3 linked regions of the Homo sapiens genome follow. The protein of the gene in region 3 interacts with the protein of the main gene of each other region in a biochemical or structural test. Each region holds a gene or a part of one and is shown on either strand. Other genes may lie near its edges.

What was found.
Region 1: the proteins of TRIM55 (region 3) and ANKRD1 form a complex in vitro, tested with the Homo sapiens proteins (one study listed by BioGRID).
Region 2: the proteins of TRIM55 (region 3) and GFM1 form a complex in vitro, tested with the Homo sapiens proteins (one study listed by BioGRID).

What each region holds. Positions count from the first base shown.
Region 1 is NC_000010.11:90,916,040-90,927,563, forward strand, and holds the start of ANKRD1 (ankyrin repeat domain-containing protein 1), read right to left. Parts: upstream 5,049-11,524; 5' UTR 4,989-5,048; coding exon 4,962-4,988; intron 4,310-4,961; coding exon 4,130-4,309; intron 3,230-4,129; coding exon 3,092-3,229; intron 2,934-3,091; coding exon 2,826-2,933; intron 1,792-2,825; coding exon 1,693-1,791; intron 231-1,692; coding exon 132-230; intron 1-131. UniProt on the Homo sapiens protein: May play an important role in endothelial cell activation. May act as a nuclear transcription factor that negatively regulates the expression of cardiac genes. Induction seems to be correlated with apoptotic cell death in hepatoma cells.
Region 2 is NC_000003.12:158,659,687-158,668,526, reverse strand, and holds part of GFM1 (elongation factor G, mitochondrial), read right to left. Parts: intron 7,654-8,840; coding exon 7,552-7,653; intron 5,900-7,551; coding exon 5,843-5,899; intron 3,191-5,842; coding exon 3,053-3,190; intron 2,224-3,052; coding exon 2,141-2,223; intron 2,114-2,140; exon of another isoform or gene 1,882-2,113; coding exon of another isoform or gene 1,783-1,881; intron 1,516-1,782; coding exon of another isoform or gene 1,453-1,515; intron 1-1,452. Other genes in the region: LXN (latexin), read left to right, coding at 1,453-1,515, 1,783-1,881. UniProt on the Homo sapiens protein: Mitochondrial GTPase that catalyzes the GTP-dependent ribosomal translocation step during translation elongation.
Region 3 is NC_000008.11:66,118,529-66,130,128, reverse strand, and holds the start of TRIM55 (tripartite motif-containing protein 55), read right to left. Parts: upstream 3,001-11,600; 5' UTR 2,861-3,000; coding exon 2,693-2,860; intron 1,831-2,692; exon of another isoform or gene 1,826-1,830; coding exon 1,653-1,825; intron 1-1,652. UniProt on the Homo sapiens protein: E3 ubiquitin ligase that plays an important role in regulating cardiac development and contractility, muscle growth, metabolism, and fiber-type differentiation.

The sequences.
Region 1 (11,524 bases), on a different chromosome or scaffold from region 3:
GGGTGGGGGAGGAGGGAAGGGCGGGTGGGGGAGAAGGAGGAGGGGGAGGGGGAAGAGTGGGAGAAGTGGAGAAGGATGGGGGACAGGGAGGGGGAGGGGGTGAATGAAGGGAGAAGGAGAAGAAGGAATACCTTATCTCGGGCGCTAATTTTTGCTCCTTTATTCAGCAACAATTTTAAAACATCCAGGTTTCCTCCACGGCTTGCCCAGTGGATGGCTGTGGATTCAAGCTATACCGGGAGGGAAGACCCGACAATGTGAAGGAGAATGTGGTCTGGGGAATTAGAACCTGGTTGCTAGGGCATCCGTGAAAATAATGAGTTGTCCCCATCTAGATTGACAATTCTAACTGGAGTCGAAGGTTCTTACCAAATGTGTTAGCTAAATTACATGTGTGTGTGTGTGTGTGTGCATATGTGTGTCTTATTAGGAGGCTCTTAATAAATCTAATAATGTTTTAAAAGAATAAGAATGGCCACTTATTGAGACATTTCTCATGCCAACATGGTGCTACACTTTAGACACCTTGATTCTTCCAGCAACATTTTGAGGTAGGTGTTGCTATGCACATTTTGCAGATAAGAAAAACCAGGTTCCAAAAAGTTCAAGTTTCTAGCCCAAGGAAACACAACTAATAAGAGGCAGAATACACAGTCAAACTCCCCTCTGCCTGGAACTTCTAACTTCTTTTGTCAAATGTACACAAAAGTTCTAAACACATGTATTTAAAAATTTTGGCAGAATAAAAGTAGTCCCTTCCAAAATATTTTAATCTGGATCTGACACCTCATCTAGGGTCCCTGTCGCTCTTTCTCTACTTCTGTGGGTTTTCTGCTCATTTTTGCTAGCACAGCCTCTGTACCTCAACTGTAGTCACTTGTGTCTACAGTTGTAACGTGTATAGTTACCCCTAGGAGACCCTCTCCTCACTGATCTATGTGGTTGGTATGCCCCTGGCCTTAATCCCACACTCATGATTTTTAGTTTCCATGCAAACTTCATATTTTGTTTCTTGATTTTTTTTTCAATGTGTTTATGTTTTGGATTCAATTTTGGCCAAGTCCCTTGGATTTCTTTGATATCCCGTTGCCGCTTTGCTATAAAGTCAAAATGAGCTGCATTTAAATACATAAAGAATTTTCCCAGCTCAATCTTCAGTTCATAAATTATGCTGCATACTGGTCTTCGTAGAAATCACAGTGATTGAATTATTGAGGTCTGAATAGCAGCTACTTTCCATAGATGCAATTCATTTCATATGCAGTCTAGCCCCAAATCTCATTGGTAGCAATTGGCATCTATCATATAAAGTGTGCAGCTAGAGAATTCGTATATGTTGCTGGCAGCCAACCATAAGCAGGCTGCCCTGTGAACAATGGAGGGACAAGGCTGTTGAAAGGCAAGTGTCGAAAATGAATGACTAACTCGCTGATGAGGATATTGAATTCAGTTTAACAGCTTTCACTTCCTTCTTTTCCCTGAAATATTCCTCTATTTTCAGTATGTATGGAAAATATTTTCACATGACCTACTCTCATCTCCCAACTTTCCTTTATTTGGAGAAATGAGCTTTTGCCTAGTTCTCTCAGATCAATTTTCAATCCAATCAGCTCGGTTTTGCATTGGAGGTTTTCCGGAGCTTCATATAGTCTACTTCTTTTGGCTCATTCCCAAGCAAAGAAATATATTTACCATATCACGGAATTCGATCTGGGCTCCAGCTTCCATTAACTTCTCCACAATTGCCAAATGTCCTTCCAAGCATGCTCTATGAAGAGCTGTCCGTTTATACTATCAGAACAGAGATTTTAAACAGAGATAGCAATAAATATAAAAATGTGTGTAAACCCTTTTAAGAGCTATGAAGCTGGAGATTCTGATGACCTAACTGATAGAAACTCAAGTGCTTCTTTATGAATAGAAATGTCAAAGTTAACTAAAATTGCAGAATCAGAACAATTATCCTGCAACTAATATTTGAGCTTCCTCCAATATACATTTCCAAGGGCTCAAAGGCCTACGTTGAGGAGTGTGAACTTAAAGGCTCAAAACTATCTAAATGCTGACATCTCCGTTTCTTCTATCTTGCACCTTCCTTGTTCATGTAGCATTACCATGCAGATCAGACAGCTTTCTTGCATCTGGGACTGTTGCTAGACTATCAAAAAGTTTCCATTCATTTTTAGGAGAATGGGAGACATGTTTTTAGTTCAACTTCAGAAGCGGTCCCCAATTTCACTTCATGGGGGAAAGAATACAAAAAGATTAGTGATTTCTGATAAATTGGCTTTATTTGAATGGGCTAATGAACTATTAGAGCTGGAACAACTTTAGGCGTTATTTCACTCCAATGCCCCATGTTTACAGATAAGGAAACCACAGCCCAGAGGATGCAAATTAGCTGCTCAAAACCAAATAGCCAAGTAGTGGTACAACTGGCCCCTGAACTCCAATCTCCAGATTTCTTATCTAGTGTTGACGTGCTTGGTTTTAATCAAAGATGATGCTAATAATATATCTCTAAAGGTGACTTTTTGGCCCACATTAAAAGTCTTATCCCAAGAATCTAAGAAGTTAAAGAAAAACTGAAAAATCAGCCAGATGTATATGAGTGCAAAAAACAATGCAATCCGTATCACTGATCTAATATCTATTTATTTTTTGGACCACTGAACTCTCCTATTAGGCTCCTGGCATACACAGCAACAGCTGGGGAAACTGTTTCAGGTGGAAGGACTTTGGCACTATATTAGCAAGACTGGAGTAAAGCATAAGAAACATAAAATTAATGAGCTGGATTTTGCAGTGCTTTGCATGAGTCTTACCTCATCACAAACATCTGGATTGTTCTTGTCTGACAAGAATTTTTCTACTACTGGCAGTTTATTCTCCAGAGCAGCCTTCAGAAACGTAGGCACATCCACAGGTTCCGTCTAAAGCCAAAATAAATAAATATATATATATATATATATATATAGCATGAGAGTTACCGTGAGCTTGCCAGCATTCAATCAAACCCTCCACAGATATTTGCTCCCCTGTAGCACAACACTGGACATGTATTACTGGAAACCAAAAAAAAAGCCCTTACAATGATTTCAGGTTCTGGTTCCTTTACAACTGGAACTTTAGTTTTCCTGTATTTTTTCCTTTTCTTCAGTTGAATGATTATTTCAAGGTCTTCTAAATTTTCAAGCTTTGATCTTTGTTCTAGTTTTTTCTTTTTGAGCTAAAAAAGAAATTCGTATTTCAAAAATATGGTGAGTTCTACTGACAAGCATTCTGGTTGTGTCTAAACTAAATCTGCAAGGTCTGAGATAAACATGTGAACAGTTTGAGCAAAAACATTTTTTAAAAATTATATAAATCTTTGACTTCATTTTAGGGATTTCTTATTCAGATATTTATCTGGGAGTCTAATTTTCAGCTAATTGCCATCATCTTTACTTCTGTTGCTTGTAGAATCAGCCCTTGACCAATTGAGGACACGATCTGGTCTCTAAGTGATGACTTTGTAATTAATGCCATAAGCAAGTCTTAGATTTTTAAAGGATTTTTAAAATTATGCTCAAAACTTGGTTTAATTTTTGAGCATGATAAAAAGAATCTAACAATAAATGTTAAGCTCTGAAATATCAATGTCATTCTCTTTCACTAAGCAGAGCCTTCTAAAACAGACTGTCCAGGGACCACAGCTAACTAAAGCAAATTTTATCTGTGTTAGTAATTAAGGAAAATTCACCCAGAAACACAGATTGTGTCAACACAGATAGCAGACAGTTAAACAATGATCTATGGACCACAGACCATGTTATTGAGAAAAAGAGATCTCCGTTGCTTGGGATTAACTACATGGTGTGTAACATCAGGAATTCACTGGACATGTGTATCTTTCAATCAAAACATGGTCACAGCACATTTATTCATTGATTCAGAATTCAGAGGTCATAGTCTTGTCAAAGAGTTATTTCCCAAAACCTGTTCCATACAAGTTGCCTCTTTACGGGTTAGAATCTGGTAAAGAGACATCTTAATGATTGGGTTTGTTTCTCTCTTCTCCTTCCCTGACATTTCCATTCCCTACCCCAGCCCCAACATCCTACTAGTGGATTCCACAGATGGCTCTCACCTCTGCCTCTCGTTGTTTCTCGCTTTTCCACTGTTGCTCCCCCAGGGTCACAGGGTGGGCTAGAAGTGTCTTCAGATCCTCCTGCTTCTCTAAAGTAACAGCAGCTTCATACTCTCCATCTCTGAAATCCTCAGGAAGGAATTCCCCTGCCTCCCCATTGCCATTCTTCTTTCCAGTGACCTATGAGGGAAGAAGATGGCAGCGTCAGAAGCAGCAGCCTCGTCCTGGGTCATTCTTCACAGACAATGCCGCAGGAGGCTCTTGGTCCTTCTCCCCTGGGAACAGCCACCTTTGAGCAGTGCACTCTCAGATCTCAAGCTGCGATGCACACTGCTACAATTGTCCCAGAATTACCTTCAGATGCTTGTCCTACTCTCTTGGTTAAATCAAAGCTTGGGTTAGGTTGACAGATTAAATCTACTTTTAATCTGCTTAATCACATTTCTTTTAGGAAAATCAAAAACCTTCTCTGCTTAATTAAAACTCAACTTTAGGTACTTTTGATGAGTTTCGCCTTATTGTAAAGTTTCCGGGCTTACATTCTTTCAATAACACTTCTTCCCTAAGACATTTTGATAACTACACGTGATTCCACACTGTAGTAATAAAACCAAAGGAGAAGATATTAAATAGGAAATATGCAGAGAATTCATTACTGGTAGCTCCATTTTTTTTTTCCAATTTCACTTGTTTCATCACATCAACCTTTTTCCATATATGACATTTTCAGAGTTCCCTTGCATTACACCTGAAAGCAAAGGGCATTTCAATTTTCAAATAAAAACCAAGATGAACCAGTTTTCATTTTATAAAATTAATGCATCTTACATACCAGTTCCTCTACTTTCAGTACCATCATGTTGGCTGAAGGAGTCTTGTATGTTTTTCTGTCGTGGAAGGAATCCCTGGAGTTGGCCCTGCTGGGCCCCTCCACACCGGTCAGCTTATATAGCTGGGGCCGGGTGAGATAATCTTCCAACCTGGGAACCGAAGTAACACTCCCACCCCCATTAGGAGCCAACTCAGAGGCAGGTGAATTTTCATTCCAGACTCAGTGTCTGGGAAGCTGAAGAGGGAGGGGAGGACAAGCTAACCCTGCTGAATATGTGAATCAGGAAGAAATGTGAGAGGGCCATTCCTTTGGTGGTGATCACATCGCTCAGCAATGCAAGTCATCCTATTTGTCAAGAGTCAGGGGACAGCTGTCTGTTGACATTGCACCACATCACTGCCCTTTTTTTCTTTGTCAGCTTTCATATGACTACCTATCAAGAAAATGTAGATGCCCTACATATCACACCCCCAGTAATATCTTTCTGATAAGCAGACTTATCAACACTTCACTTAGGGGAAACTTGTCCCAGGACATCCTATTCCCTGGGTAAACAGCCTGAGGGGAAGGGATCTGGGCCCTAAAGGCACTTGTCTATATCTGTTTGGAATTCTTTGGAGTGATGTCTGGGGCTAAATAGGCCCCATGACATGCCACCTTACCATCATTATAAGAAATTGAAAGCATTCAGTAATGCACTTTTCTTTTATGATGTCACTGGCCATAATTAGCACATGACATGCTTACCGTGTTCTAAAACAGCATAATAATTGGAGCATTTTTACTTCAAAATGGATCAGAGTGGTCAAGAAATAGAGTAAATGAAACCAGCTATCAGCCGGGTGCAGTGGCTTACACCTGTAATCCCAACATTTTGGGAGGCAGAGACAGGAAGATTGCTTAGCTTAGGAGTTCAATACTAGCCTGGGCAACATGGCAAAATCCCATCTCTACCAAAAATACTATATATATATATGAAAAAAATGAGACCAGTTATTAGCAATGGCAGGACTCTGATTAGGTCATTGAGCTGAAGTTCTCAAATGCTGTGGGGAAAGGAATCACCTGTGGGAGCTTGTCAGAAATACAGATCCCTGGGCCCCACTCCAGGGAATTCTGAGTTGATTTATGGTAACTCGTAGGAATCATCTTGAATTTCAAAGCACCCAGATGATTCTGATGCATCAAGATTTGAGACACGTGGCTGGAGGGATAATGCACTTTGCTTCCGGAAGGGTTGAAAAAGGTCTCTATTTCTGGTTTCTAATCTTTGAGGTGTAAATTATGTAAAAATACTGGGGTCTTTTTATAGTTTCAGGAAAAACTGGGTTTTTTTCAGTAAAAGAAAGGAGAGAAGAATGGGAGAAGGGAATTGTGAATGGAGGGAAGTGTTAATTAGGAAGTTATGTTTGACCTTTGTGTGTCTATTTCTCCCCAAACTCACCCAATCAACAAATGTGGCTGCCATTCTCCTCTTCCCCCTTGAATGCTCAGTCAGTGGATGGTGTTTCTGAAACTTTGAGAAGACATCGACTCCCCACCCCAAGACAAAACATTGACAAAGAGGGACCCTCCCAGTACCTCCTGTATCATATGTTCCGGTCTCCTAATATTCTATCTTAAAAGGGGGTTAATTAAAGGAAATCTCCTGGGCTTTTCTTTGAGATGGACACAGCTATCACTATTTTCTTTTTAATTTTTTCCTTTTCTCTTTATTATTTATTTATTTTTAATATATGGAATGTTTCACAAATTTGTGTGTCATTCTTGCACAGAGTCCATGCTAATCTTCTTTGTATAGCTCCTATTTTAGTATATGTCCTGCTGAAGCAAACAGAGTCATTACTATTTTCATTGGTCTCTTCATCTAAGTCAGAAGTAGTCATGGACACTTTTTCTACCATTTCGTATGCCTTTTTGTTCCAGGCCTGACCCAAACTGAGGGAGGTATTAGGAGGAGAAGTGTTTGGGGGAAGGACTGTGGGATGTTTAAGGGTCTTGGATATGAAATCCCAGAGCTGTCCATGCCCTCGAAGTTGGAGCAAGACTAATGCTCTCATTTTACAGAGAGGATGCTGAGGCAAAGAAACATTAAGTAACTTGCTGCAGATGCACAGCTAGTTGGTGAATGCTAGGTTGAAGAGTCCTGATTCCATCCAACAGAAGCAGACAATCATTGAGCCCAAAAGATTTCCTAGGGCAAGTCTCACCTAGACCCACTCAGGATGCAACCAAAACTGATTAAATGGCTCCTTACTGTTTCAATCACCTCAAAGAATGCAAGTGAAAGTGGGCAGGGAGGCTTACCAAGCCCTTTTCTTTCTCCAGGCATTTAATTATCCCTTGAAACCTAGCTGATTCTATAGAGAGGCTCCAGGAAGTCTTGAAGAAAACTTTGCAGAGGATGACACTTGAAGATGAGTTGATGGAATGGGCTGAACTTAAAGGAGCACGCTGGTGGATGCAAGGATGTCAGGGCTGGTGAAATCACTGCCAGTTCAACCTTTTCCCATGTTGATCCAGCTTGTCATTATAAAACATGAGAGGTACAACTTGAGGATAAGTGGTCAGAAGATGTAAAAAGAATATGACAACAAATAAAGAAAAAAAACATGAGAGAATCTGCTTTTTGAAAAGAGATTCTAGGCACCTTTAGCTCTCTAAAAAGATAAAAACAACAACCATTGTATTTTCAAATCGTTCTTATTCATCAAAATTGAGAAAAAAATTCCCCTGGCGGAGAGTTTTCTGTCATTTGTTTTTCAGAAGCATCCTTCCCATAAAAGTTCACCCAGTGGTGTAAATTCTTATATTTGTGTATTTGGCTTTATCATAGCCTCAATCTGGACATAATCTATCCTTACTAAGATGAATTAAAACAATAAAGGTCCTAGTTGGTTCTACAATCATAAAGCAACTTGGCATCACCCATCTCCAACCAGAAAGAGTAAAGGAAGCATCCCTGAGCTTCTCCAGTGTCACCCCATGAGCCTTTTCCCACTCCCCTCAGGATTTATGCATTTCCATGGGTGAAATGACATGTGACTAGAATTAGGACCATGGTTATAGCTGGAGAAAGTGAGAAGCAGAGAAGTAGCACCTAAAGCAATTACTGCTGTCACCTAGGGATTAAAAGAGGCGCTTGGACCCCACCCAGATCCATGTGCCATAGCTCAGCTCCAAGTCCAAGGGCAGTTTTATCTTTCTGTATAAAATATGAAGTTCCAGACGTTCTACTTCTACTCCAACTTTTCATTCTTATATTTTAACTATATAATAGACACATTATTGTTAAAAATAGCACAGAGAATGTTATTTAGTTCAGATCTTACTGTCGATTTGATACTTGATTATTTTTCGCTCAGTAACCGTGTCTTACAGATTGTCTCCTATCTGCACAAACAAATCTATCTTGCTATTAGAAACAACTGCATGAATTTCCATGCACGGACCTACCATTTCTTATTTAACCACTTTCTCATTTGTGGACATGTAGGCTGTTTTTTTAAAATGGGCATTTTTATTTTCTAAAAAGGCATTTTATAGCACATAAAATTTTATTGTTATTAACACTCCTTGTCCTTAGAACACCCAACTTGATACTAAAAGGAAGTGCTCCAAGGACTGTAGCCAGATTCTGACTTGGAAACCTCCTTGTTCCACTGTTGTACTTACAATTGCTCATTTTGCCATCCCTTTTAATAGCCTTCCCAGTCCCAGCTGTTACGCACCTTCCTTGGCCCAGAGAAGTGGCTGACTTAGCCTGACCAGCAAGCCATGGCTCAGTTACGTGTTTGAAAATGCCAAAGGAAGGTCATAAAAGTGAAGCAAATAAGGTTTAATGTTGTTTCCCCTCCCCTGCCAGGAATGGGATAACCTGTATTTGAAAAGCAGAAAAGTACTGGAAACATTTTCAGCAGGATTGTGGCACCTGCCTTCCTTGCCTCTCGAAAGGCAGAATCAAGACTAAAGTCCTTCTGCCCAGGACTCTGGATAGAAAGGGCACAAACTGCCCTAACACAGTTGGGCTGCCCACAGTAGGTTACTTTTTACGGATATCGGTGGCCTCCTGACGTTAGAGGTAGGTGAAGGCTGTAGGTCTCACCTCCACACCTTACAGCAGGTGCCTTGTTACAGTAAATAAGGTATCTCAGTGCAAATTCTGCCACACATATGAACTCACACCAGCCAACAGGCACAAAGGGCCACATGCACTATTCAGTAAACTCATGAAGCCCAGCCCTTTGTCCATTTAGGCCCTTGGACAGTGTCCAGCACAAAAGATTCGCTTGACTAGGCATGGTGGCTCATGCCTGTAACCTCAGCACTTTGCGAGGCCAAGGCAGGAGGATCACTTGACCCTAGGAGTTCGAGACCAGCCTAGACAACATAGCGAGATCCTGGCTCTATGTTTTTTTATTTAAAAAAAAATAAAAGAAAAAGTTTCACTTGAAGCAAATGAAACCACAACCACATTCTGGCAGCATATTTCAGCTAATTTTCTAGTCCACTCAAGGTGATTACAGACTCCTCCACATATGGCCTAACACAAGATAGGATGGAGTCCTAGCACTCACTATAAGCCTAGGACTCCAACTGCATAGAAAAGTGCCTGACACATAGTGGGGCTAAATAAATATTTACCTGAGACCCAGCAGGGCTCATATTCTTTTCTAACCAAACCACATATTTCAAATTCTCCTTTCAATGAGAAATAATTGGTAACATTTCTCATGCTAATTAACCATTAATCTGTCAATACTATCAAAGGTAAAGATAGGTAAAGTACTTGGGATTACCTCCACTGGAGTGGGGGCAGCTCATTAGTGTCTTTCAAATGCTAACTAACCCCAACAGTTGTAATCGCAGAGTCAGGGCTTCTCAGGTGTGAACTAACATTTCTTCAAGCAGTGATTCTCTAAGCTGGGTGCATCTTAGAATCCTCTGTGAAGCTTCTAAAAAAATGCTGATGCCCAGGCTTCAGCTCAGGCACATGAAATCCAAATCTCTGCTCAAAGATCCAAGGAATTGGTATTTTTTAAAGTTTTCCAGTTGATTCTAATTTCCTCCCAGCATTGAGAATACTGCTCGAGGGTGTAGAATTAAATGAATATGTATCTAAATACACGTGTATTTTCTCCAAGTTGTAGTGGACAGTCAAGCTATTGTTATTCTGGTCTCAGAATTTTGATTGTTGAAGACTCTTGCCTATGCTAAGACCATGGGAAACACACACATACAATTTACTCATTTATTTTTTATTTTATTTTATTTTATTTTATTTTATTTTATTTTATTTTATTGTTTTGAGACAGAGGCTTGCTCTGTTGTCCAGGCTGGAGTACGGTGGCACGATCTTGGCTCACTGCAACCTCTGTCTCACGGGTTCAAGCAATTCTCTTGCCTCAGCCTCCTGAGCAGCTGGGACTACAGGTGCATGCCACCATGCCCAGCTAATTTTTGTATTTTTGGTAGAGATGTGGTTTTGCCATGTTGGCCAGGCTGGTCTTGAACTCCTGGCCTCAAGTGATCCTCCCGCCTTGACCTCCCAAAGTGCTGGGATCACAGGCATGAGCCACTGTGCCTGGCCTACTCATTTAATATTTATTTAGCTCTACTTTGTGTCAGGCATTTTTCTAGAGCTGAGATATACTTATGCTCTCAAGAGACACACGACTCTGCCCTCACGGCATTCACACAGTTTTACTGAAGTATTTAACAAAAACTACAGACAATATAACATGCTTCTTCTGCCACAAATCAAGAAGAGTGAGGCGAGACAGTAGTTTTGTGGGTCTGGTGGGGATGGGATGAAGAATCAGGAGGCTTACCTCTAAATCCTGGCTTTGCCCTGTGTTCACTGGAGCAAGTCCTCTCACCTCTTACCATCTCAAATCCTGAAGTTATAAAAGGAGAGCTGAGAACAAAATGATTTCTAGGGCCCTAAAGTTTTACTGAGGTCTCAAAGTCACTGAATCAAAAGGTAGAAATAAACATTCATAACTGCAGCATCACGTGCGGACAGTGAAGTTGATTCTCCAATGCCTCTAAAAGAGGAAACGGTCCATAAAGCTTTCACTAGCCCAGGATATTTCCACTATCTTTAAGACATTCTCCCACTTGATAAACATAAAAATTTCACACTCTCTGTTACATGGATAGAAATTTCAAGAAGATCAACTTGGGGTCAAGATGAAATAAAAGTAGTGGTAATTTTGATTATGCCTCTTCAAACCTTCTAAGACCGCAGAGATTTTTATAAGGCCTCATCCTCTTTCTTCCCCTTCTGAGAATCCCTGCCCAAGCTCTTGCCTAGGCTGACATCTGTCCCCATAGAAAAGGTAGTGATAAGTGTCCAGGAAGGGATCTCAGTGACTTTCTATTACATTCTTATTTCCCCAAATAATGGGTTCTTGTTTAGGCCCCCTACACTGGTTCCCAGAACATTAGGAAGGCAGAGCCTCTAACAATCAACATTCTGGGATTGTGATAAGGACAACTGGCCTGTCTATTACAACCTCAAGAAGAATGGGTGTGAGTGGGAGAATCAGTTAAAATGTGAA
Region 2 (8,840 bases), on a different chromosome or scaffold from region 3:
CCCTCTTCTAGAACAAAAAGGTTGAGAGAGTTTTATTAGTAGCAGCAAGACAGAATCCCAGGTGTACAATATACAGTCAGGCCTCTCCATGGGTTCTGCATCTATGGATACAAACAACCGAGAATCAAAAATATTTGGGGGAAAAAAATGGATGGTAGCATCTGTACTGAACATGCACAGATTTTTTTCTCGTCATGATTCCCTAAGTAATATAACAACTATTTATATAACATTTAGATTGTATTTGGTATTATAAGTAATCTAGAGATGATTTAAAGTATATGAGAAGGTATGCATAGGTTATACGCAAATACTACACTGTTTTATGTCAGAGACTTGGGCATCCGTGCATTTTGGTATCTGAGGGGAATCTTGGAACCAATCCTCCATGGATACTAAGGGACAATTGTAATGACTCTCCTCACCTTTAATCTGCTCTATAGAGATCCTCAGGGCCACTTTTTATGGCAGTCACAAGCAAAGCTGTGCTTTCAGAAGAGTGAAGTCTTGAGTTATAATCCAACATTTAGCTTTTGTGCTCAGCTTAATACAGATTATTTCCCTTAGCAATCTAAGTTTTGTGTTCAAATTACTATAGTCATGCCATACTGAAACTATCTGTTTTTTCCCTCTACTGTACAGTACAGAAAAAAGCTTTAATTACACAATCACACAACTACACTCACTACATTTTACTATTCTCAGGTGTTCTGGTTTTTTTGTTTGTTTGCCTGTTTTTGAGACAGGGTTTCACTCTGTTGCCCAGGCTGGAGTGCATTAGTGTGATCATGGCTCGCTGCAGCCTCAATCTCCCAGGCTCAGGCGGTCCTCCCACCTCAGCCTCCCAGGTGGCTGGGAGTACAGGCACACACAGGCATGCCTGGCTAATTTTTTGTTTATTCTCATAGAGACATGGTTTCACTGTGTTGCCCAGACTGGTCTTGAACTCCTAGGCTCAGGCAAGTTGCCTACCTCAGCCCCGCAAAGTGCTCGGATTATAGGTGTGAGCCACTGTGCTCGGCCTTATTTTCAGTTTTCAAAAAGAGAATTTCTGTTATAAAATTGGATTCTTTCAATGTAAACACCCATTGCTATAGCTTATCCCATAAATTATGCTTTTCTGTACAATGGAAACACAGAGCATTCTTAAATAACAAGCTACACTTGCTAATTCTCTTAAGTAGCCACCACAACTTGGAAACTAAAAACAGGTAAACATTTCTTGGGGAACAAATATAAGATCATGATTTTAAAATGCATCTTGAAAGAACACTTTATTTAGTGTAAGAGAATAGATTTTGTCACATTAAATTGAAATTATGACATTCAATTTTTATTTTTACCTAAATGGAAATATTATATTCATCTAATCAAAGATGATTTTCAAAATTAAATGTAATTTTTGCCAAAGATATTAAGTTTTAAACAACACGTTTTTATTTTTTGTCATAGCAAAGAAATGATGACTTTATTGAATTAGACTACACCATTCTACTTCATAATATAGCATCTCAGGTAAAGTATAATTTACCTTTATTTGATGCCATTCTGAAAACTGAGACTCCTTGTATAGCCACAGTATGCTTTATTAATTTTGACTCTAAATCAGAATTCATGTAAATCCAGATAGGCACCAGATTTAAGTATATTATAATTGCAGCAATTTAACAAAAGTACTATTCTTTGTGAAGACTGTTTTATCTCTAACAAAACATAAACCCAACTACGTTTTCCTAAATGTTTTCTGAATTTTATCATGGCATTAATTTTCTTCACTTGCAGGAGATTATTCCCTGGCAAATGCAAGTTCTCTGGCATCCACAATACGGCACTAAAGTAAAACATAATAGCCGTCTGCCAAAGGAAGTACAACTGGAATAAACAAAAACCCTAACACTGGAAGTGTAAACATGTCTATTGATGTGTATGCCAATTTCACTGGCATCTAGCTTATGAGGCCAAATAATCCCAAAGTGTCACTTTATATAAATGTCTTGATTACAGTATAGAACTTTATAGAGTCCATAATACAAAGTATCACTACATAAAAATGTCTTTAAAACAGTAATAGTGGTATGTATATCCAAAATAAAAAGCTTCAATTTCAGCCTCATAATGTTTAATTACGTTGCATACTTACGGGACAGGGGCAGTAATGGTCTCTCGAAAGGCAACTTTTGGCTTTCCTGTGATACAAGGACAGCCATACTCTCTTTCCAGCCTCTAAAAAGAGTGGGGAAAATATTATTTAAATTTAAAAAAATAAACCGAAAGAAAACCTCCTAAGCATCTTATATATCTTAGTAGCATTCACTTAAATATAATAGATAAACAAATCTTAAATCATTTTAGTATCTTATAAGGATTAGGTATGTGATACTTAATACAAACTGCTTTTACAGATTTTATATAAATGAATTCTAAGTTACATTGATTAATTTATATTTACCTCCAATTAATCTAACCACTAAAACGTCACCATTGTTGAATATTATTACATATTCACTGGAATAATATATAAATCTGTTGTCAGGATTTTCTATCTCAACTTCAAAGATAAGATCTCACCAAAATTTCTAATCACATATCTTTGGTTTTTACTTATATATCAATACATACAAGACCTTTCCTGGGAAGGTATAGGCCCCATCTTCCCTTCCTTTTATCTATATTATAATGATCTTCAAGTAATGACTTGAGAAGAAATGGCCTGAAAAGTTGGTACAACCGCAGGTTGTCTCCCTAAGGCTTGGACCAGGATTTACTTGACCCAGTTACCCATGACCTGGGGATGGACAGATATTCTTGTTGCAAATCCCCTGAGCCTTGATTCTAGGAGTCCAGAACGTTTTACAAATAAAAAGATTTAGAGATCGAAAATAATTATTTTGTAACACATAGTAGAGGAAGCAGTAGACCACATCTGGATACAAACCAGAGTGACGCATGAAGAACCAGAGTTAGTTACAGACATTAGATTGAGAATTATTGACTTTTAATGAAACAGACAGTAATAAATTGATTTCAACTTAACTTCCTTATTATTCATTACCTGAGCATAGATTTCCAGGTGTAATTCTCCCATTCCAGATATAACTGTCTCTTTGTTCTCAGTGTCAAAGTATACTTTAAATGTGGGATCTTCTCTTGTAAACCTGCCAATACCTTTTGAAAATTTTTCCAGATCGTTCTTTAAAAGAAGAAGAAAGTCACTATATGTTTTACTGAGCATGATAAGCAATGGGATTTTAGAAAAAACTTTACTGAATGAAATAAAATACATCAGCAGTTAAGAAATAAAAATGATACATATCTAGTTCTACTCCACACCATTTTTAAAAACAATGTGAGCTTGGATACCACACAGCCAAGACAGCAGGGAATAGCTCACTGAACAGAATTTTCTTTCCACACCAAGATAGAAAACAAGAGTCCAAGACTTAACTCTATGCCCTGTCCTCTTACATTGACACACTGTCCTTTTGTGAAAATTGCCCATAAAGCAGAAATTGGAATCTGTGTTACATTTTAGAAATCCTATACATAATCAAAGGAATCAGCATGTTTACCAAGACACTACTGTAGATCCAAGCAGGATACTTAAGACCAACAAATAGGCAAATACCACGATGAGACTTGTCCCTTTCAAAACAATCTGCTTGGATGTGGTATGATGTACCCTTTTTCTCCTTAGATGCCATGTAATCCCGCGTGGTAAGCAGATTAATGGCCCTCCAAAGATACCCTAATCCTCCCAAATCTGACAATACGCTGCCTTACATAGTAAAGGGGACTTTGCAAATGTAACTAAGGTTACAGACCTGGAGATGGGGAGATTGTTATCAATTATCTAGGTGGATACAACATAATCATGTGTGCCTTTCAAACATGGAGGAGGAAGCTAGAAGGGGGGGTCAGAGGGATTCCATGAAGGAAGAAGTGGCAGGAGATATCTGAAGCAAGAAAGGGACTTAACCAGCTGTTGACGGCACTGAAGATGGAGGCAGGGGGCCACAAGCCAAGGAAGGTGGGTAGCCTCTAGAAGCTAGGAACAGCCCTCAGGTAACAGTCTTCAAAGAAATGGGGAACCCCCATCCTACAACCACAAGGAATTGAATACTGCCAATAACCTGAGTAAGAAGGAGAGAAATTCTCCCATAGAGCCTCCAGAAAGGAAAACAACATTACCAATATCTTGATTAATTTAGCCCTTTGAGAACAGCTATCAGCCTATGATCCACAGAACTATAAAAGTATATATTTGTGTTGTTTTAAGCCACTACGTTTGTGGTAACTTCTTAAGTCAGCAATAGAAAACTAACATGCCCAGTACAACCAATATTAACAGCTATCATTTACCACATACCTGGAGCTGTGGTATGTGTTTTGCCTATGTTTTCTCAAATCCCAACCACAATGCTGCAAGGCAGAATTATCCACATTTTACAGGTGAGGAAATGAGGTACAGAGAGGTTAAGTGATTTGTTCAAGGCCACACAGCTATTGCATGGCAAAGCTGGGACTGAATCCCAGTTTAGTCTTTCTAGGTCTTTTGCCTTTTTTCTGCACAAGCCAGATACTCTCAAATTAGAAACATCATGCCTGCCCCCACTATTGAGACTCATGGAGACTTCATTATTCGATTTAAATTAACTTACTCCAGCAAGCAGCCATCTTTAAACTTTTTAATGCATACACAACCCCAAAACAACAAAAAACCTTCTGGATATTGAAGCATTGATTTCCCTCCTTATTGTAAATTATCAACAGTTAAATGCCTTAAATAAACTCTGAATTTAGGAATGAAGAAGCATAATACATAAGCATAAGTTCTAACCTTGCATACTTCCAAAGAGAAAAGCAAGCAATTTTAACAATGTACTTGGAATAAACTATGGCATCCTACTGAGGTTAAGATGTAAGGTTCACCTTTCCTCAAATTCCTGAGAAAATGGAGAAATTTAATATTTCCTGCCACCTCAATTTTCTCTTTTCTATATTGAGAAAAGGTCTGGAAAATCCCAAGGTTCCTCAAAATAGATGTAGTAGTAGCAGCTGTTAGTGATATTATCACACGTGACAATTCATCAGAGTATGTTTTGTAATAAGTTCTGTATAACAAATCATAAAAAGTTCACTCAATGTATGAATAAGTGAATTTCAATATACCACATTAACATGATTGTTATGAATGCCAAGGCAACTTAAGAACTAAAAAGTTATGGTTTGAGATCAGACTAATTCCCATGGCAAAGAATGAAAATGCAAAACCTAATCATGCAATTTTGGATTTATTAAAAGCTAAATTACATCAAACCCAATTATAAAACTATAAAGTATAAAATTATCTTAAAAAATATTTCAAAGTGGAAAAAAGTCTTATTTACAGGCTTTCCATGCAATACTCAGACATTTACCTCATAACTACCAGAAAACCTAGAGCTATTTTATAACCCATGAGTCAATTAATCAGTTCAACATTCTAAAGTACTTTATAGTGGGGTTTTACTACAACTTAGGAGAAGTGCCCGATTCCCCTTTTCCAATTGTGTATGATCTGAATCCGGGAAGTTACACTTAACACTCTGAAGCCAACAATATAGTAAAGAGTTATAAAGTACAGTCAGGTGAATATTTTAATACCATCCATTTCTTCAAATATACTGAGGAGTTATCATTAGAAACAGACTGGTAAATTTAAAAAGAAGATCTCAATACCAACAGAGGAAATAGAGACCATAAGACTGCTGGTTATTACAAGATATCAAGTGCATTGTAGAGATAGATGAAAAAGAGCTCAAGTTTTAATTGTGATATACTGAGCTTTAAATCAAACTCCTACCTTGTTAGAAGGCTTCATTGCTATTGAAATGACAGGATCAGGAACATGAATTGACTCCTAAAATATTTTTTAAAAGAAAACAGAAGAATTAAAAAACAGACCCATATGGGTCAGGGATAGATTAATTTTAATGTGCCACTTTACAACAGAACAAAGGATAAATAGTAGCCTATGTCTTTAGGCTAGACAACATATATCTTGATCTGTTTTGCATTAAATAAGTACATTAATACAACATATTAATAAATAAATAAAGCTATCTACTTATATAGGTTCCTCCTTCCCAAAATAAAATTAATGAATGTATTTATTGCCCTGTTTAACATAATCACTACAATTAATCCAAATACTGAGATGTGAAATTCTTATTGCTTGGTGGCTGTTGCAATCTTCTAAGTTATTTTATTTAATCAAAATATAATACAATTACTGATAAGGCAAACAGAGAAAGGGCACCAAATTCTTCATACCCATGACACCTCATTTAATGAATTACAACTCTGAGAAGCAGGTATTATCCCCATTTTACGAATGCAGTCACTAAAGGCTTGGAAATAAGGTAAAACAAATTGGCTAAGGGCCAGTAGGTAGTATAGGGCAAAGGTGAGACTCTAACCAAGGCCTGTTTGTTTCAATGCCTTGGTAAGCACTTCCCACAACTACCAATCACTTCATGTTGCTAATGACCAGTACTTAGAGAAGGCCTTATCAATAATACTTAGAAAACATTCCTTTTATCTAGATCTCAAACAAAAATTGTATAGATTTATGTTTTTTTTGTAGTGTCTTAAATCAACAGGTAATAATATACACATTAGAGGATACTACAGATAAAAAAACTAAACTATAAAATCATGAATTCATCATTAGATAGCAGGAAGTATTACAGTGCTATTCTGTTAGAGTTGGGTCAGTACTTATGTAAATGACCCACTGCAAATTACCTGTCACCCTATGTACTCATCATACTCTTTCTTTACTGAATTCATAAAAGAGATCACTCTCATAAACAGATGGTCATAATGTAAGAGAGTTTGCTCTCCTACAGAGGCAAAAAAGGTGAGTGAGTGAAGGGAATTCAAAGGCAGGAGCTACCTGTGCATGCTCTTCCCTCAGAATCCCTCAATGATAAAAAGGGACTTCTGAGTTCCAAAGGGCAGGCTATTTATATAAGTCAGACTCTGTAGTTGCATATTGCCTATTGCCTTCTGAGCCTGGTTATGTTCTGTTATCCCAAGTCTAGTCTAAATGTTACAGTCTGGTCTCAAAAGGGATTGAGGGAACAGTATACTTTCTGGCTACTGAGTTAATAAGGAAGTAGCACTCCACTGAAACTAGCTTGATGTTAGTGGTAACAATTAGAAATGCACCCCAAGTGTGGAAGCAGGTCTCAGGGTGGAGGAATCAGAGCCACACTGTCCAGGTACCATCTGGTGGAGATATTTCCTCCTTGCTAAACTTGGGAGGATTGTGGATCCTCCAAGTTTTCCTTTTTACTATGAAAAACCAGGTAAGTTAGCTTACAGAGCACTTGTCTAATTGACATTCAAAGAGCTATAACCAACATTCAAAGAGCCACAACTAACTTGATGACTGTGGTACTCAACGAAAACTTCTGTGGTTGTTTTTCTGAAGTATTAAATGCACTACATAAAAACACAGACTTTTAAAATTCTAGTGATAAGTAGCTTTGAAATTAAATGGCTTACCATAGAAAGGCCGCTGTTGGCTTTGTCTGTGAATGTGTCTCCACTAGCACAGTCAATGCCAAACAATGCACAGATGTCTCCGGCATATACTTCCTCAACATCCTAAAAAAACAAATAACACAAAATTATATTTGCAAGTAATACAAATAAAGATGTGGTAACTAAAAAGTAAACTGTACAGTACACACATTGTATATAAAAAAGCGTGGCAGAATCTCTCTGCTTGAATTCTATAGTGAATTAGCTAGAACCAATACAATAATCAACCATGCTAAGACGTATTTTTAAAAGGCCTTCATTTAAACCATATATCAATAGACAAGATTTTACTTTAAACAGAAAACTCATTACTTGAAGGAGCTGCAGTACTAACAACACAGTGCCTCAAGGTTCTAAAGTTATTTCTATGGAATTAAAAGGCATGTACTGGCGGGGCATGGTGTCTCATGCCTGTAATCACAGCACTTTGGGAGGCCGAGGCGAGTGGATCACCTGAGGTCAGGAGTTCAAGACCAGCCTGTCCAACATGGTGAAACCCTGTCTCTACTGAAAATACAAAAAATTAGCCAGGGATGGTGGTGGGTGCCTGTAATCCCAGCTACAAGGGAGGCTGAGGCAGCAGAGTCGCTTGAACCCAGGAGGCGGAGGTTGCAGTGAGCCGAGATCGCGCCACTGCACTCCAGCCTGGGAGACAAGAGCAAAACTCCATCTCAAAAAAAAAAAAAAAGGCATGTACTATATATGTTGCCGCAGTTAGACAATGAGATTGTGTATGACAGAGATCTACTCTGTCATACATACTCTTCCTTTACAGGAAACCTGTAAAGGAAGTTTTGAAAACAAAGGTAGGAGAATGGAGCCCACTGTACTAAAAATAATTTTAATTTCTCACAGATGCAAGCAGTCAAGAAAACACAGGAAATCTAAGAACAAAGCATTGGTGCCTCCAAGCTTCCTAGTTTTTGTCGTTTTACATTGACAGTTCATTCACAACAGCTGTGGCTGTGAGTAAGCATGTCTTTCTTTAATGGTGACACAGCTGTACAAATCTTCCAGCTTCTGGTCCATGAAACAGCTATGACAATCACTTAGCCTGCCCCCTGCTGCCTATCTCACAAAACAGCAACGCTGTCGGGTTTTCAGACTGACAATTCCTCTTCTAGAAGAAACAAAAGTTATGGCTACCAAAAAATTCGTTAAGATTTTGCTTCAACTGATAAATTTCTCCAGGAATATATAGATGGATTGGGAGAGGGTGGGGGTAGGGGACAAATTCAGGCACTCAGTAT
Region 3 (11,600 bases):
TCTCTGGATTTCATAACAAGTATTGCTATTTTTTCATGTCTCAAGTTCCCACTGTGACAAGTAACAAAACATAAATTTATTGCAATAAATAGAACATGAAAGAATATTTGTGGTGTTGCTTAATCAGCTGGGATTTATGGGGCAACTATTCTGTGCAAAGCACTGTACTAGCTCTGAAACTTGTTACGTAAGAATATTTGTGGTATTGCTTAATCAGCTGGGATTTATGGAGCAACTATTCTGTGCAAGACACTGGACTAGCACTGAAACTCTTGTTATATAAACTCTCTTAATATTAGGTTGGTGGCAAAGTAATTGCTGTTTTGGCCATGAAAAGTAATTGCAAAAATCGCAATTACTTTTGCATCAATCTCATAATTAATTGGTTTTTAATTGGCTGGTTAAGTTTTTAAGAGACAAGTGTGTATTTGTATTTTAAAGTAGTGAAATACAATGAGATCAAATCTGTAAAGTAACAGCAACAGCAATAGTACTTTTGTTCTTGTCAAGAGACTTTGGAAGCAAGGGAAACAGCCAGCTGCAATCTCTGCAATATGTCATCAGCAATTCTTCCCCAAACCCATCTAGATCCTGGTACTGTCTAATTTAGTTTTGGATCTTTAGCGGAAATTAATAGCTATAATAATTATAATAATTATGTTAGATTTATAGAACAGCTTTCCTTCCAAGAGCACAAGCCTCTTAGAGCTCTGCAGATGTTCCATAAATACGTGTCCCCTAATGGAATCACAATGAGGCCATTTCTAGATGGTCTCAATATTGCTATCAAGCTTTGTGGACTGGACTGACCTGCACACAATTGAAAAGGGGCTCTTCACACCGTGCCTTCTAGGAATAAGCTTCCCGCAGCATTGTGTCTAGGAAAGGAATTCTATAGCCAATGTGGTTTGGTGAATAAGAAGCCTTTTTTGTTATTTTTTAAAAATGAATGGATAGATATATAATGCTATCACGATGTTATTCACAATCAACAAGTGAATGCTGACTATGCAGTAAATACAGTATAAGGAATAGGGAAACATAACCTGAATTTCACCCTTTTTTTTCCTCATGGCTCTGAAGTTTAAGTCCCTAAAGGCCAGGGTTTTGCCTTGCTTTGTGACTTCCCTTAGAGTAAATACAGTGACAACCTATGTTAGAGGATTTTGTTTTTATTATCATCCAAACAATTTTAAGGCAAGACTGTCTGAACTAGGAACTGGGCTACTTCGGAAGATGCCATTTCTATTAATTTTCTATTAAGTATTTACTAGATTTTTTTTTCTTTGCTTTGTAGGGATCTGGAGCTACAAAGTGCCTGTGAAGTGCAAAATGTGTAAAATGGATGTAATACCAGGCTTTAAGGTGGAGGGGGACAGCAGTATGTCTCTTTCAGCATCACCATCTGGAATGGATTGGTGTTAATGAGTCACTTCATTCTTAAATTGATACAAAAGCATGGGCACCAACTCCCCTCTCTCCTGCTGTGAGCAACTCTCAGTCTCACTGGGAAGGACTGACTTGGAAAACCATTTTTCCATAAAACAGTCTGTGATTGATAAACAAGCATTCAGCGTAGCAACCCATTAAAACAAACAAACAAAAACAAGTTTCAGATGGGCTTGACACATGGAAGAGTGGAAGAGTGTTACCTGGTGGACTCCTGCTTGTAGATGTCAATGATATTTTCCACCAGCAGGTTCCTCTGAAGTCCATATACCCCATGTCTATCCAAAACCACTTCATGTCTACAGGATGGGCAGCGGAATCGGCCCCCTGATGCCATGGTGGTACCTCCTCTTGTGGGCAAATACGGGTTAGAGGCCTGTTCTTGCCAAGTAAGAAAAAAGGAATTGGGTAATGCCACAAGCAGCTTCTCTGAGACTTATTTTCACTCTCTGCTACTACAAACAACATGAACTTCTACTTTAAGCTTGCCATAAGATCATCCCTCAGGGCTTTCTCAGCAAGTGGTCCTGAAACACAGGGTCAGACCTTATCCACAGTCATCTGCGAATATACCATTGTCCACGTAAGGTGCTTTTCCGTCCACCACTTTCAGAACCAAAAGTTCCAGCCAGAAACTCCACACTCATGTCTTCAGCAGTTACTCATTTATAGTTTTGAAACACATTAAATGGTTTGACTTAAAAAAAAATATGATTCTTAGTATTAAAATAAAACTAGATTTGGGAGTAAAGAGGACACAAACCAAATCATTAAAAGAAACGTGTTTTTCTTGAAAGTAAATGCAACTTTATAAAGTTTTTTTGTTTGTTTGTTTTTCTTTTTTTGAGACAGAGTCTTGCTCTGTTGCCCAGGCCGGAGGGCAATGGCACGATCTCCGCTCGCTGCAATGTCCGCCTCCTGGGTTCAAGCAATTCTCCTGCCTCAGCCTCCCAAGTACCTGAGATTATAGGTGCCCGCCACCATGCCCAGCTAATTTTTTTTTTTTTGTATTTTTAGTGGAGATGGGGTTTTGCCATGTTGGCCAGCCTGGTCTCGAAGGCCTGACCTCAGGTGATCCACTGGCCTCAGCCTCCCAAAGTGCTGGGACTACAGGCGTGAGCCAAAGCGCCCGGCAACCTTATAAAGTTTTTTAAAGGATTTCACCTCAATGTTAAGCACTTGATTCCAAGAGGAGGGAATCTTTTCCACCCCCTCCCCTCAACCAAATTCCAAACAAACCTACCTGGAAAATATCACTGGCACATTTCCTACACAGGTTGTGCTGACAAGGGAGAATCACCACAGGTTTCGTGAACATCTCTAAGCAGATGGGACAGATGAGTTGCTTCTCTAAGTTATCCATGGTCTGCTGCTCTTTGGAAAAAGATTTGTAATTCAGAGATGCGCTCATCTCCTCGCTGTCCCCAAGTGTGCTGCCAGGGAAGGGTGCTGCGAGTGGCTCCAGCAAGTGTTTCCTGGATATTATTCCAGGGATTGTGTGATCAAGTGTCCTTTACGTTTCTCTCGGTGGAGGACATTGTTTCAGGCCCTGGTTTGGAGTGGGTGCTGGAGCTGTTTTTAGCAGCCTGCGGTCACGTGACGGTGGGCTGACGTGTCCATATAAGCCAGTGACAGGAGGATGGATCCTGACAGGTGACGGAGAGCAGGAGTCAACATTCTTGCCCCAGGGAGTGAAGAGAGTGGGTGGGAAGGAGGATTACAAACCCCATTTAGACGGGGTTGTGAGGAGAAGGAGGTCGAAGCTGACAGTTGTCAACAACAAATGCAAATGTGCATGCCTAGCCACTGAACCATGCCCTCTGTGAGCACTCACTGAGAACTTGGCGATGGCTTCTCCAGGAAGGGGCAGAACGCAGCACAGAGTCTGTGTAACTAATGCCAGCCCTGTCTTGAGAGTGTAGGAATTGAGTCACGGAAAGTAGCCTAATAGCACCTTCTTAGGTGAAAATGAACAAAACATGTCTCGAAAATTGTTATCCTGGCTTCACAAAGGCAATCATCAAAAAGACTTTCTTAATGTTAAGTATTTCATCTTTGTCAGCTGGGGTTGTGGTCTTTGAAAAATTCCAATTTAAAAGCTAAATTCAAATCCCTTCACCATAAAGGTATCCACCTAATAAATAAATAAATACATGCATAAATAAAAATTCAAAACCAGTGGATGATCTAATTATTTGAGAAAAAAGTTACATTATAAAACAACTCTAGTATGCTGTTTGCTCTTCCACATTGCTTTCCTCTTCCTTGGCCCTCTTTCATCCTATACTGCCCCACCTCCTACATACACCCAAAAACACAAAGAAAATTTGATAGTCTTTTACTGATTATTTAAATTCTTAAATTATATAATAGTTTGCAACAATAATCTGTAATGAGGTAGTAACTGGCAGGCACCTGGAGGTGGCAGATCTATTATTTTATTTTGTCATCCCTTGGGGGACAGTTACCAGTGCCATTGACAACTGAAGTATAAATGGAGTCCTACTTCCATATCTGCATTTCATCTGCCTCCAAAATACCTATTCTCCCTTGCATTTCCCCTTCCTCCAAGGTGACTTGTTAAACCATAGTTTCTCTGGTCATTTCTGATATTCTTGGTCTGCTCTTGAGTCATAAACATCGATTCTGACATTCATCAGGATTTTGTGAAGCAACAGTTTAACCAATACATATTGTATTTAAAAATGTTTAAATCAGATCAAAAATAAAAAAGAAATCCAAGTCTGTTTATATGTGATAAATTTCGGCTTTCTTTCTCCTTCATTTTAAAAACCTTGGGCAATAAACACATTTTGTTAACATATCCCTGGTGTGAATTAAATTACCAGTGAAGTGTAGGTCAGTTATGTGTGGTCTTAGTGCTGTGTGCACGGAGAGCTTATTGAGAATCTAGTAAGCTCTATTAACTAATAATAAGTTATATATATTCATAAGCATATCAGGGATCTTTAGAGAATTATCTTAGTCCTTTCAATATTTATTTAGCAACTACAGGGAGGACGGGAACTGGTAAAGTTTTTTTACTGAGTTACTTTGGTTCACCCAGCCTAGGCAGTTAATTGTGTTTATCAATTCATGGGCTATGGAGGGGAGGTCTGAGTACAATATGTGGGATATTTTCTAGGAAAGATTAAGTTTCTACTGCAAAAGACCTTGCTATCTAAGTAAAAGCACTTAGACTAATCATGCACATTGCAGCAGAGTCTTTTCTTTTAGAAGGAATTCATTCCTTCAAAATACATTCATTGGATATGTGTAGTGTGTCTCCATTGTGTGAGGCTCTGGGTATTGAAAGATGAACAAGACATAGGTCATTGGCCTCAAGGAGCTCAGTATAAGAGTGGAGATGAGACATGCACACACAGAACATAGTACAAAATAAAATGTGATAAAGAGTACAAGCCAAAAAGTACCTGAGACAGGTCTCAATCGAGAAAGTTTGTTTTGTCAAGGTTAAGGGCGCGTGCCAGGAGGCAGGCCTGCATCTTTCTCCAAAGAAGATTTCGAAGGCTTTAATATTTAAAGGGAAAAGAATGGATATTGGGGAAAGAGAAAAAAAATTTCAGTTGTGGGTAGATAAGAGGCAAACAGTTGCATTCTTCTGAGTCTTTGATCAGCCTTTCACCAAATACATAATTTACATGTTGGGGCTGGGCGGTGGGTAGAGGAATAATAGTCATTTATGTCTTCCTTTAGCTCAGTGAGTCTGCATTTTTACATTAGAGGAAGAAAGCAGATATGCATTTGTCTCAGGTGAGCAGAGAGATGACTTAGAGTTCTGTCCTTCGTACCATGCCTGTGAAGATAAGCTGTCAATTTACACTGTCAGGGTAAAATTCAACAAAACTGTTTTAGGGTAAAGATATTGGGGCCTATAAGGAATTTCCCAGTGTGCAAATTGTAAGGGAGGTATGTAGCGTTTAAATCTTTGTAGCTATCTTATTTAGGAATAACGTGGGAGGCAGGTTTGCCTGACGCAGTTCCCAGCTTGACTTTTCCCTTTGGCTTAATGATTTTGGGATACCAATATTTATTTTCCTTTCACAACAGCTACAGCATTTCAGGGTCAGAGGAATCAGAAGGGCTTCATGGGTGGGGGTAGTGTTTGAACTGCTGCACCGAGGATCTCAGAGGGATGGACGTGTAGTTAGGTGGGGCATGGCTGGGGCTTTCCAAGAGAAGGCACAGAAGCAGCAACATGGGCATGCACAGGCATGCAGGGGATCTCAGAGCCACGGTGGCTTGAGCTGGAGTGCAGGCACGCGCTCAAGCATTGGCTGGCCATGGATACTGTGCTAAAGAGTTTTTAACACTTAATAAGTTAAGCAGCAGGAAGTCGTTAAAAGTTTCTCACTGGACACTTCCGTGAGAGCAGTGGTTGGTTAGATTGATCTTTCAGCGATGATTGGGTTAGATTAGCATGAAGGTGGCTGGCTAAAAACCAGATCAGAGGCTGTTGCCAATAGTCCAGGTGAGAGGTCGCGAAGCCCTGGCACAGGTCATGGCAGTGGGGAAGGAAAGGAGGAAATGATCCCTGGGGCTGCTATGAAAGTAGAATCCACACAGATGACTCAGATGCCTGAGCCTGAGTAACCGACGATGTAGTGAGAGGCTGCAGAGTGAGTCAGAGACAGTCAGGCTTTCTCCCAGCTTCTGCATCTACCTCCCTTTGTGGTCTTGGAAAGTGACTTCACCTAGGAGGATTTCAGTTCTGCCCTCTATAAGTGAGTGGGGTTCATAACCTAATTTAGCAGTATTTGTAGAAAAAAACAAAAACCTCTGAAACAGAATTTTCTTTTAAGAGACAGAGGGTCACTCTGTTGCCCAAACTGGAGTGCAGTGGCGCAATCATAGCTCACTGAAACCTCAAATTCCTGGGCTCAAGCAATCCCCCCACCTCAGCCTCCTGAGTAGCTGGTACTACAGGCGTGTACCACTATGCCCAGCTAATTTTTTAAATTTTTTGCAGAGACAAGGGTCTTGCTATGTTGCCCAGGCTGGTCTTGAACTCCTGATTTCAAGCCATCCTCCTGCCTTGGCCTCCCAAAACTCTGGGATTACAGAGCTGATCTCTATCTTCCTTTCTCTCTCTTTTTTTTTCTCTCTGTTCTTTCTTGCTCCCTGCCTTTTACTTTTTCTTAGAACTGTCCCTGGAGGCTACACAGGAAAACAGCATGAATCCCACAGGAGTAAGAGCCCAGTTGATGAATGTCAATGAAAAAGAGTAAAACTCTGTAAAATATTTGAAAAGATTTACTCTGAGCCAAATATGGGGACCATGACCTGTGACAGCCCCAGGAGGTCCCGAGAACAGGTGCCCAAGGTGGTCAGGCTACAGTGTAGTTTTATAAGTTTCAGGGAGACATAAGACATCAATCAATATATGTGGGGATATACATTAATTTGGTCTGAAAGATGGGACAGCTCAAAGTGGGGGCTTCCAGGTCATAGGTAGATTTGAAGATTTTCTGATTGGCAGTTGGTTAAAAGAGTTAAGATATTATCTAAGGACCTGGAATTTATAGTAAGATATGTCTGGGTTTAGATAAGGGGTTGTGAAGACCAATGCCCTTGTGCAGAAGAAGCTTCCGGGTAGCAGGCTTCAGAGAGAATAGAAGTTAAATCTTAGTTAAATCTCTCCTGGATCAGGGAAAAGACCTGCAAAAGGAAGGGATTCTCTATAGAATGTAGATTTTCCTCAGAAGAGACAGTGTTGCAGGGCCATTTCAAAATATTTCAAAGAAATATATTTTGGGGTAAAATACTTCAATTTCTTTCAGGGCCTGCTATCTGTCATACGATGCTATACTAGAGTCAGATTGGAATTTGGTATCTTATTGCTACAAAGAGTCTGTTTGTTCAGTCTTAAGATCTCTGTTTTAGTGTTAATACTGATCAGCTAAGCCTGAATTCTAAAAGGAAGAGGCTAGAAGGAGTCATGTGTGATCTTCCCATAATGGCCTGAACTAGTTTTTTAGGTTTACTTTGGAATGACCTTGGCCGAGAAGGGGCATCCATCAGTGAGTTGGGGGGCTTAGAATCATATTTTTGGTTTACCTTGTGAACCCCGAAAATCTGAGACAGGTCTCAGTTAATTTAGAAAGTTAATTTTGCCAAGGTTGAGGATGCATGCCTGTGACACGGCCTCAGGAGGTTCTAACGACGTGTGCCCAAGGTGATCAGAGCACAGCTTGTTTTTATACATTCTAGGGAGACATGAGACATCAATCAACACATGCAAGATGAACATTGGCTTGGTCTGGAAATGTGGGACAGCTCGAAGCAAAGGCGGGAAGATTCGAAGCGGGGAGGGGGATTCCAGGTCCTAGGTAGATAAGAGACAAATGGTTGCATTCTTTTCAGTTTCTGATTAGCCTCTCCATTTATGCATTTATCTCAGTGAGCAGAGGGGTGACTTTGAATAGAATGAGAGGCAGGTTGGCCCTAAACAGTTCCCAGCTTGACTTTTCCCTTTAGCTTAGTGATTTGGGGGCCCCAAGATTTATTTTCCCTTCCCAACATGAATAATAACCACCTTCCTCTCTGCATTCTTTTTTCTCCATTCCTTGCTCCTCCCTGCTCTCAGACACCAATCCATGGGGTGGGTGTGTGAGCTGTAAGTGGGACACAGGAGGGAGTGCTCTGCTCTAAGGAGAAATCAGAACATTTTATTCACTCCCAAATCATTCACAGGGTCCAGGAGGTTGGGGAAATTCTGGACTTGAATCAGAATTTAAGTCATCTTCAGGCTCCGGGATTTGGAGTGGACCTGAGCCTGCGCAGGGACATGAAAACCAGCTGATAAAAGAAAAAATTTAGACAAATTAAAATTAACAAAATTTAATAGAACAAAGGATGATTCATGAATGGGGCAGCCCTCAGAACCAGAATAGATTCAGTGATTCAAGGGCTGCCCTACGGTTGGATAAGATTTATGGACTGAGAAAAGGAAGTGATATACAGAAAACAGAAGTGAGGCACAGAGTTAGCTGGATTGGTAACAGCTCAGCGTTTGCCTTATTTGAACCCAGTTTAACAGCTGACCACCTGGGATTGGCTGAGACTCAGCGACCTGTTACAAGAGCACGTTACAGTCTGTTTAGACACCCAGTTGGGTGACAGTTCACTATGTACAAGAAATCTTTAGGTGAAACCTAAAATATGTATGAAGGTAGCTTTAGGTCAAACTTAATTCAACAAAGTGTAGTCTCCTGAAGGTATTTTGGTTTATATAGAAGGACTGCATTGCTTGCCCCACTTCCACCCCCACTCTTACCACACACATCAGGACAGAAGCTAGAAACTGATCGGGAGCAATTACACAGGGAGCTGCCATGGTTGGAAGTCCTGGTTGTCCCTCGTTTCTGAGTCCCACCAGCCTGGGGCTGGAGTATGTTAAGACACATTGAAAAACTGAAGCAAAGTCACCACCACCTTCCCCTCTTTCAACAGTTTTCCAGTCTCCCAGGTATGTCTGGGGAAATTAGATGGGTCCCTAGGAACCTGAGTGTGCACCCAACAGTGGATGTGACGCTGAAGGGTAACAACAAAAAGAGAAGGCTTTTGACCTCTTTCAACCTGTAGCTGCCGGGCCAAATGGAACCAGGCTTTTTCAGGGGCCAGGGCCCAGGAAAGAGATGTAGATCTGCAATGGAATTCTGACATGACCTACCTGGAGTTAGGCCAAATTTCACAAGTAAAGGGCATGGTCTGTCCTGACTTCAGACACCAACAGCAAACTCTGGGGTTCCCAGGTCCTGCACTTCTGACCAACTGGCTACAAATTTGGAGGTTCCCACTACCCCCTTAGTTTGGTAGAATGACTCACAGAACTCAGGAAAACATTATATTTATGATTACAGTTTTATTAGAGCCAAAAAGAATACAAATTAAGACCGGCCAAAAGAAGAAATGCATAGGGCAAGGTTGCAGGGTGTCCCAAATGTGAACTTCCATGTCCTCTCCCAGTGGAGTCAGGATGCATCACCCTCCTGGCACACGAATGTGTAACAATGCACACAGAGTGCTGTTAACCAGGGAAGGTCACCCGAGCTTCTGTGTCCAGAGTTCTTATGGGGGTTTCATTATGCAGGCATGATTGATGGAATCATTAGCTTTGTGACTGATCTCAATCTTCAGCTTCTCCTTGCCTCCCTGGAGGTTGGGCTGACATCACATGGCTTAAAGCCCCAAGATTCTCATCTCATGGTTGGTCTTTCTGACATGGCTAGCCCCAACCCCCCTTCCCCGTCCATAGTTATCTCATTAGCATAAACTAGCAGGGCCCACGATGAATAACAAAGGCATGTCTGTCACTCGGGAAATTCTAAGGATTTAGAGGCTCCCACTCAGGGACTTGGGACAAAGACCAGCTAAGTTCTTTATTATATAGTAAGAGCTCAGTGTGTTTTTCATCTAGGGAAGAGAGGAAAGGGATGCTAAAATTATTTTTACTATTATACCACTACAACAAATATGATAAATATGTACTGAATACCCATTACTTCATGTCACAGCTCCCTGTCTCAGGTATTATTATCTCCACTGAGTCAACTGTGGCTGAGCAAGTTAAGTAGTTGCCCTGAGTCACGTGGCTGCTGAACTGTGATGCACACTGAGAGACACATCTTTTGAGCACAGAGCCCATGACCTCACCCACTAAGCTGCACCACACCCATGCTTTAGAAGGGCACTGTCCATAAGAATTTCCGCTAATGATGGAAATGTTCTATATCTGTAGTGTCCAATCTCTAGTCACTTGTGGTTCTTGAGTACTTGGAATGTGCACAGTGCAGCTCTGAAACTAAATTTTAAACTGTATTAATTTAAACTTATATTTAAATGTCCACATGTGGATAGTGGTTATTATACTAGACAACCAGCCCTAGAACATGAGATATAAAAAAATATTGGGGGCAAATTCAAATGCATATGAAGGACTCTCCAACAAGAACTGGGTCACCGTCTTTTGGTGATTTTGTACTCTCTGGCTAGAGTGATGTGAATCCCCACTCGCCCCAGAATGGTCAGAAGAGCAGCACTGATTCTTCATTGTAACTGTCAAAATAGGTCAGAGCATTCTGAGAACGGGAGACATTAGAAAATCCCAAAGAATCCTGAAGATTCCAGAACATCCTTGGCATTTCACTTACCCATGTTCTCTTTTGTCTCTTTGGTGCAGGTAATTGCAAGTCCAGGTACTTGAAAATAATCCAGGCTTAGTTTAAGGAGCCATTTGTTCATCAAACAGAACAAAGAACTTATGGTTAGATGGAGAGTACAGCTAAAAGGAAATAAAAAACCGATATGGTTTGAAGCAAAACAGTGAGCAGAGAGAGTGCAGTCCTGATGAAAGAGAAAACAAGAGGAGTCGGAAGACTGATCTTACTCTTGGCTCAGCCTCTAAGGTAGAAAGGAAGTATTCTTGCTTTCTTGTGCCCACTGGAAGTGAGAAAGAGGGTGGCTGCCTAAGAATTAAAACAGGGAAAGAACATCAGATGATGTGGATGTGGAGGCAGAGAGTCAGTGATTGCTGAAGAAGGAAGTTTAGTTGGGCTGGAGCACTAGGGCACCAGTGGACCAAGACTTTCAGGTCAACTCCAGCACCAATATAATCTGAAAATTATTTTAATCCCATGCCAAAACAAAGGTCAACACTTAATCTTGTGCAAACCAGGTCCTCTTAAACTGAGCCAGTGAGGCTGTTAATTCTTTCTTGCAATATTCACACATGCATGCATGCATCCACCTGTCCATCCATCCATCCAACCATCCATCCACCCATCCCTCCCTTTTTTAGTGAGAACACCACTCATGAGCAGCGGAGAGAAGGCCACACTTCATCTGGGATTTCAATGAGCTGGTGTTCCAAGCACCAGGCTCTGTTATCAGTCCTGCCAGATATAACCCATCTGACCACAGAAGGCATAATGTTATTTCCTTTGGTATCCTAGAGCTCAGGGTGTGGCCCAAATAAAGCACTTTCTAACCATTATTTGGCTTAGAAATTTCCCTCCATGTAACAACTTTAAAAGTTATTCCAAAAAATATAACCCAGAACTCTCTTTCCATACAAAGATTCTTGCCATCCCTTTGCACTGAGGACTTGACCCATGACATCTACAAAATAC